Linked DNA regions of Homo sapiens: region 1 is linked to region 2. Evidence: fine-mapped expression QTL. A gene starts in region 2. The other region holds a variant in brackets. All regions are shown on one strand. Distances are between the middles of the regions.

The links.
Region 1: its variant is fine-mapped to the expression of ADAMTS13 in spleen (GTEx, PIP 0.95).

Annotation. Positions count from the first base shown.
Region 1 is chr9:133,999,059-134,003,577 of GRCh38, forward strand. No RefSeq gene overlaps it. Among named protein-coding and RNA genes, the nearest start is that of VAV2, 9.0 kb to the left of the region's middle. The variant C/T (reference allele first, on the strand shown) is at 2,706.
Region 2 is chr9:133,420,279-133,424,278 of GRCh38, forward strand. It overlaps ADAMTS13 (ADAM metallopeptidase with thrombospondin type 1 motif 13), which reads left to right and starts at 2,089. Exons shown (of 29, transcript NM_139027.6): 1 at 2,089-2,270; 2 at 2,823-2,889. The coding sequence starts at 2,166. RefSeq lists enhancers at 1,244-1,383, 1,614-1,663, 1,784-1,843.

The DNA.
Region 1 (4,519 bases), 580 kb after region 2:
ACCCATTCTTCCGCCCATCCATTCCTCCACCCATCTCTCCATCCATCCACCTATCCCTCCATCCATCCACCCATCCCTCCATCCATCCACCCATCCATCTCTCTATTCATCTCTCCATCCATTAAATTCATCTCTCCACCCCTCCCCCACCCATCCCTCCATTCATCCCTGTATTCATCCCTCTGTGTATCCCTCACATCCCTCCACCCATCCTCCATCCTCCACATAGAAAATACTGACTGAGCACTGGCTTTGTTCATGAGGAAGGGCAAGTGAATGTTTTGACTCTTCCCAACATGATGGGATAAAGGAATTATTCTCATGTCCAAACCACATGAACACACACATTGTGCAAATTCCATTTGTAGCTACATCATGCAAATTCAGCTGTCACAATTTCCTGGGAAATTATAGGTGTAGAAAAAGACCATCTGGCCCACCATGCAGTCAGAGTATGCCTGACTGAATTATTGGGTGGGGGCTTTTACATTTTGTTTGAAAGGGCAAAATATAGATTTTTTACTTCTTGTTCAACTTTCAAAATTAAATCAAATGCCATAATCCATGGATCGTACCCTAAACTGAAATCTCTGAAATCTCACTGCCAAGTGGCCATTGTTTGGACACCTTCCAGTGACTATTTAGGAGACCGGGGCAGTTTTCTGTGAGCACTGCCTGGAGTCTTTGAGCTCATGAGTTCAGGGTCACCTAATCAAGGCTTTAAGGAAGGGGGAAACAGTCTTCCCTCCGTGAATGTGAACGGACTTCATGCAAGTGTAGGCCAGAGGCTGGGCAGCGTGTGGAGGTGGACTTGGGATCTCTGCAGGAGCCCTCTCATCACAGCCCAGCAGGCCAACCCAAAGCAGGAGAGGGAGGCGAGGCCCAGACCAGCTAGGAGGATGAGCCAAGACCCACATGGCCAGCTGTGAGTTATGGGAATGGGTTATGAGTTATGCGATACAAGGGGGAGGCTGGGGAGCCTCCTGAATGTGGTCCTTGGCAGACTCAGCCTGCCGAACTCTGGAAACTTTGGCTCTTACTGAAAGGGAGGCAGCACACCCTGGTGCTAGGAAGACACGGCCAAGGGACACTGGGCTCTAAGCCTGTCCATGCCCTTAATGGCATTCAATGCCACCCTGTCCTGGGCCCCTCCAGCTGTCCTCTAGCCACAGCACCTCCTGAGGCGCAGTAAGGGCACTGCCAAGGAGACATACCCACCCCTACCCTGCTAGACAGCACCCCTGCCAGACCACAGCTCACGTACTCCAACTCTGGGACATTTCTGCCACCCCCAAAGGAGACCCCGTATCCCTTAGCTGCCCTCCTCAACCCTGCCCATCCTCAGCCATGGCAACCACTAAGCTGCTTCCTGTCTCTATGGATTTGCCTGTTCCGGACACTTCATCTAAATGAAATCAGCCAACGTGTGGCCTTTTGTGCCTGACTTCTTCCCTCCAGCATGATGCCAAGTTCCATTCACCATGAACGTGCACCAGGAAGGGCTTCATTCCTTTTTATGGCTGACAAATAATTAATAGTAAGTGGAATCAACTTTAGTAATACACTGTACTTGATCCAGTATATTTGAAATATTATCATTTCAATATGTAATCAATGTACAAATCTATTAGAGAGACATTTGACATTCTTTTTTCTCGCCAAGTTTCAAAATCCAGCATGTGGTTTGCACTGATAGCGGACTTCAGTTTGAACCCTAAATTTTCATCAGACGCATTTGATATGTGTTTAGGTTTCACAGAATTCACAGTTGAAAAAGTAGATTTGCATACCCAAATTGTTTCCCGTAAACTTAGAAGTTTGCCAAAAATGAAATTGAGTATCAATTTTTAAATTAATTAAAATTAGAGGCCGGGCATAGTGGCTCGCACCTGTAATCTCAGCACTTCGGGAGGCCGAGGCAGGAGGATTGCTTGAGGCCAGGAGTTTGAGACCGGCATGGGCAACACAGTGAGACCCCATCTCTACAATTTTTTTTTTTAATTAGCCAAGCATGGTGGCACACACCTGTGGTACCAGCTACTCAGGAGGCTGAGGTGGGAGGATCGCTTGAGCCCGGGAGGTCGAGGCTGCAGCAAGCAATGTTTGCACCACTGCACTTTCACCTGGGAGACAGAGCAAGGCCCTGTCTCAAAAAACAAAAAACAAATTAGATAAAGATTCAGTTCCTCAGTCAGACAAGCCTCATTTCAAGAGCTCAGAAGCCACACATGCCTGGTGGCCACTGATATCTTGAACTTGGACTTGGGTCCACCTGCCTGAAGCCTGGTTCTGCCCCACCAGCATGAGCTTCTGTCTCCTCTCTCATGAGTGGCCATATTGCGATCTGCCCCACCCGTGGCCATAGGGGTTCTGGGAGAGCGGGGATGTAAAGAGTTCCGCGCTGAGGCTGACCCCCCCATATCAATACAAGAATGCAAGGATTGCTACTAAAGAGACTCTTCTCCTCCATCAGCTCAGAACTGGGCCAGCTTTGCCTGTCCCTGGGACACTCAACAATAGCAGGCCTTGGAGACTGCTCAGATGTACACACATACGTGTACGTGTGCATGTGCATATGCTGGGAACTGGGGAGAGAGTGTGGGTGATACTTCCCCAAGGGTTGGCCAAGCCTTTCTGGGCTCTTTTCTCCATCTGACCCCCATCCCCACCTGCAGGAAGAATGACCCCTTTAAATCTGATTGTGC[C/T]CCCTGTTGCTCAAAGCCCACCTTTGTGTCTACATAAAACCCTACACACCTATATTTATAGCGGCATTGTTCAAAACAGCCAAAATGCTGAAACAACCCAAAAGTCCAACAAAACAAAACACGGGGCTGGATGCAGTGGCTCTCACCTGTAATTCCAACACTTTGGGAGGCTGAAGCAGGTGGACCACCTGAGGTCAGGAGTTCGAGACCAGCCTGGCCAGCATGGTAAAACCCCATCTCTACTAAAAATACACACAAAAAAAACCCAATGATAACTAGCCAGGTGTGGTGGCAGGCACCTGTAATCCTAGCTACTTGGGAGGCTAAGGCAGAAGAATTGCTTGAACCTGGGAGGCGGAGGTTGCAGTGAGCCGAGATCGTGCCATTGCACTCCAGCCTGGGCAACAAGAGCGAAATGAAAACAAAAACAAAAAACACAGATAAACATATGGTGGAATATTACTCAGCCTTAAAAAGGAATGAAGTTTTCTGATCCATGCTACAACATGGATGCAGCTCGAAATTTTATGTTCAGTGAAAGAAGCCAGACACAAAGGCTACAGGCTACACGTTGTATGATTCCATTTCTATGAAATGTCCAGAACAGGCAAATCCAGAGAAACAGAAAGTAGATTGCGAGGTGCCAGGAGGTGGGGAGGGGGAGTGACTGCTCATGGGTACAGGGGTTTGGGGAGGGATGAAAATGTTATAAAATTGATGGTGGCGATGGCTGCACAACTCTGTGAATATACCAAGAACCGCTGAATTGTGCACTGAATTGTGGGTGGATTGTACAGCATGCAACTTCTATTTCAATAAAGCTGTTTGTTATATTTCAAAACAAAACAACAGTCTTGGGTCCCCCACCCTCTGAGCACATCCAGCCTCCTAAGCATGATTCTCAAGGCCCTCTGCACCCCTCACAGCCCTCTCAGTCTAATTTATGCCACTCTCCAGACCCACCCCAAATCCTACAATACTCATGCTCTTGAAATTCTCTCCACACCAAGCTGTGTCTGGCTTTGTCCAGCAGTGGGCCCATGGGAGGTTGGTCCCCCAGGAAATGTGTATGTCTCCTAAAACCCAGCTCAGCCATCGCTTCCCTCAGGGACCATCTCCTGGCCTCCCCAGTGCCCTCTGTACCTTGCTTAGAGGTCCTGCAATGTCTGCCTGGGTGTGGGGTGGGCTCCTGGGGGCTTGGCCTGGGGGCTTGGCCTGGGGGCTTGGCCTGTGGGCTTACCTCCTTTTTGTCCTCCCAGCACCCAGAACAGGGTCTAGCATGTCTCTGGGCAACAGAGGCTGCCACCGTGGCCCCTTGCCTCCTGGGGAGGTCTCAGGGGTCCCAGAGGGTGCTGTGTTGTTTCTGAGCACAACTGATGAGAGTTAGACACCAGCATGAGTTCATTCTCCCATCCATCCACCCATCCATCCACCCACCCATCCACCCACCCATCCACCCATCCATCCACCCATCCACCCACCAACGCACCCATCCACCCATCCACCCATCCACCCATCCCTCCATCCATCCATCCATCCACCCATCCACCCATCCACCCATCCACCATTCCATCCTCCCACCCATCCATCCACTCAGCCCTCCATCTATCCATCCACCCTCTACCCATCCACTCATCCATCCATCCATCATTCATCCACCCATTTATCCACCCATCTACCCATCCACCCATGTGTCTATCCACCTACCCAACCATCCATCCACCATTCATCTGTACATGTATCCAGCCATCCATCCATCCATCCATCCGTACATTTATCCATCCATCCATCCATCCATCCATCCATCCATCTGT
Region 2 (4,000 bases):
TCCGCGTGCCTCGTGATCCACCTGCCTCGGCCTCCCAAAGTGCTGGGATTAAAGGCGTGAGCCACCACACCTGGCCCAGGTTTTCTTTTTAAAAAAGGAAAAAAACTTTGTTCCAGCAGTTTGTAAACCAGGGCAATGCAGCCTTCTGTACAAAGGTGCATTCCAGGGAACAAAGAGAACAAAGAAAGAGGTCGTCTTTTGTAGAGAACTTCCTGCCCAGGTTCCCACTTTGGTCCACTTATGCAAATGAGGAAGGCACACTTGCTTAGTTCTGATTGGTTAATACTTGCTGAGTTCAGATTGGTCGATGCAGGTCACAGTCGATGGGTTGATTCTGGCGGCATAAACAGGAACAGATAGCTGTGAAACCATCCCAGAGTTAAGTGAGAGTGGGGGCTTTCCAGGAACGCAGAATGTGTGTGTGACCCTAGTCAGCAAATGGCTGCTAGGTCCTACTTTGAATTTAGGCCCAGTTAGTAACTTGGGATCCATCAAGAAGGATTGGCTCTTTCAGGGTTCACAAAGTTATTGGTGACCTTTTAAAGATCAATTTCAATGGTATGTGGGAATTGAAGGCAAGGAAGTGGAGATAGCCACTGAAAATAATGTTTCTAAGTTCTTAAAGACAGCCAGAAACAGGGCTATGGCAGGAGGACAGTGTGGGTCAAGGGAAGGTTGTTGATTGTAATCAAGAGACACCAGAGTGTCTGGGCTTGGTGGCTCATGCCTGTAATCCCAGCACTTTGGGAGGCCGAGGCAGTCAGCTCACCTGAGGTCAGGAGTTTGAGACCAGCTTGGCCAACATGGCGAAACCCCACCTCTACTAAAAATACAAAAACTAGCCAGGCGTGATGGCGGGTGCCTGTAATCCCAGCCACAAGGGAGGCTGAGGCAGGAGAATCACTTGAACCTGGGTGGCGGAGGTTGCAGTGAGCCGAGATCGTGCCACTGCACTCCAGCCTGGGTGACACAGCAAGACTCTGTCTCAAAAAACAAACAAAAACCAAAAAGAGACAGGAGAGTCATTCATGCTGATGGAGTGAGCCAGGTACCAGGATCTCGATATCTAAGCATGCCCCCTTCTCCAACAGCCTCCTTACCTTCCTGCATGAAAGCACACCCTTCCCTCCAGTCCCCCATTCCTTTATTCTGCTGTATTTTTCTCCATAACACTTACCACCTTTGAACATACTACATATACAACATGTGTCTGTCTAGCAACTTTGCTGTCTGGCTCTCTTCCCTAGAATTTAAGCTGTGAGAGGCCGAGGCTGCTGTCTGCCTGGCTTGGGGCTGCTTTCCTGGTGTCTAGCACAGAGCCTGGCCTGTTTCAGGGGCTCAGTGAAACATTTGTTGGCTGAAGGAATGAATGAATGGCTCTAGCAGAGGGGCAGAAACTAACGATGCAGGAGGAGAGAGCTGGGAAGGGATCCAGAGCCAGGGCCTGGCAGGAAGTGTAGGTGTGTCCTCCCTGATCGCAGAGGAGGAGAGAGGCTGCACTTTGAGGGGTGGAAAGACAAGGTGAATCCCCCTGCTGGTCATCAGCTTGTGCGGCTCTGTGGGTGTAAAAGAGTGGTTTGGAGCATGTGAAGTGAGTCTTCCAGGAGATGAAGGGGATTGCCAGGCCGTTTGTGATGATGCTGAGATCTGGTGCCGTGCAGCCTGCTTCTGCGACTCTCCTCATCAGGCGCAGGCACAGAGTAGGTGGAGAGTTGAGCCAGAACCACGATGTCTTTGGCACAGCCTCTCATCTGTCAGATGGGAGCGGGGACCCCGGAGAGGGAGTCAGCCGAGGTCCTGGCATTCCTTGTGAACCCCCGTCTGTGGGTTTCTGGTCCAGTGTCCCTTCTCCAGATTAGATGGCTTAGGCCTCCTCTAAGGGGGTGGGCGTGCACATCCGGAGAGCTGTCTGGTGTGCAGGACTGGGCTGCAGGTTACCCTGAACTGCAACCATCTTAGAGCAAGGCCCAGCTTGCAGCAGGAGGAGCTGCAGGCCGCCCACCCTAGCCACGGCCCCTGCCCTGGCAGGAAGCTTCCAAGAGTAAACACTGCCTAATCGTCCCGCCCAGTAGTGAGCAGGCCTGTCCCATTCCATACTGACCAGATTCCCAGTCACCAAGGCCCCCTCTCACTCCGCTCCACTCCTCGGGCTGGCTCTCCTGAGGATGCACCAGCGTCACCCCCGGGCAAGATGCCCTCCCCTCTGTGTGGCCGGAATCCTTGCCTGTGGCTTTCTCCTGGGCTGCTGGGGACCCTCCCATTTCCAGCAGGTGGGCTCATTTGCAGGAGCGGGGGTATTCTGGGAGCCTCTGGGTGGGGTATTCTGAGCTACCTGGGGCGAGGGGAGTGCCAAATAGCTGACTACATCAGCTTTGGGGTTTGCGCTGGGCAGGGGAGTCTGTACTTGGGGCTTTGGGGGATGAAGTGTGCTCACTGAAGAGGGAGTTGGTGTCTCAGTACGACCTGCTCATTCGGTGAAGCTGAACAGACAGATACTAGTTTGTCCCAAACTGTGTAGGTTGCTCTTCTCTGCCTCTCCCTTCCTCTCCCTGTCTCTGATTTCCCCCTCTCCTTCTTGGTTGGCCTCACCCACCTCCTGCCTCCTGTCTCCCTCTTCATCCATCTCTTTTTGTTCTTTTTTCTTTCTCTCTCTCTCTTTTTTTTTTTTTTTTTTTTTTTAAGACATGGGGTCTTGTTATGTTGCCCCAGCTGGTCTCAAACTCCTGGACTCAAGTGATCCTCCCACCTCGGTCTCCCCAAGTGTTAGGATTACAGGCCAGAGCCACTATGCCCGGCCCCATCCATCTCTTTTTGTCTTGCAGAGTTGTCTTCAGGCTTTGGAGCCACAGGCCGTGTCTTCTTACTTGAGCCCTGGTGCTCCCTTAAAAGGTACTTGTCCTGGTGTCTTCTCTCCCGGGGGGAGTTTCTCAGGACTTTCAAGGGGTATCTCACCACTGAGTCAGTGGTCTGGGATTTTTGGTGGATCTGGAAGGAGAAGGTCAGAGAAGCTGCTGTCAACCCTGTTAATTAACTCTGTTACTTCCTGCCAAGTTGATATAAGCTGGTCTGGGTGTTCCAGCCAGGCCAGGGTTCTCACCCTAGCTTCTGTTAAATATCACAAGGGAACGGTCACCGATTGGCTGGCCCCTCCTGCCCCATGGCCTCTGCTGAGCTGGCTGATTTTCAGGAGCTCTTGTGGTTTCTGACCGTGGATGTAAATATTTATTCCTTCTGTGGGAAACAAGATAGGTACTGGCTCAGGCTACCTCCTAAGGCCATGGATTTCCTTATGATAAAGGCCTGTCCCCATTGCCCACAGGCCCATGTCTGTGACCTTCTCCGGTGCGAGCCCCCTTCCCAGTAGGGCCATTGGCAACTTGACTAATGGCTGATGGGGGCCAGAGGCAGGTGGGCTAGTGGTCAGGGGCAACAGGAGGGCAAGGCCCACTTTGTGACCTGGTTCTTTGTGGTCTAGGCCAGAGGCACACTGACCAGTGCCTGGGGCCACGCTGGGGGCTGGATGCAGCCGACGCTGTCTGGGTATCCCATAGCCTGGGTCCTTCCAGCGCTGCCGCTCCTGAAAGGCTGGGAGATCATTGCCCAGGGTCCCTGACCCTCTAAGGGCTCCCTTGGGAGAGGACAGTGAGGGCTGGCCTGGGCCCCTGCTTCCCAAGAGACCACTGGGCTCCACTCGTGTTCAGTTTCCTGTCGGGGTCCATGATGTTACTTGTGAAACACCTGTGCCCAGAGCAGGGTCCAGGAGGCAGGGCAGGGGCTTTCCCCTTTGGGCAGAGCCACCAGGGCAGTGGGAATCTTGTCTTGATGGGGTGACCCAAAGCACACAATAGCCCAACAGCTCCTCCTGGGCCCTGCCCTTTGCGTGCCTAGTCACTAATGGGGTCTGGCTCTTGGGGTGGGGGTGACACGCAATGTCTTGACTTCGGAAGGCCATCCTTCCAAGACCTGCCAGCCCCTTTCCTGTTAGCTTTCCACTGCTTGC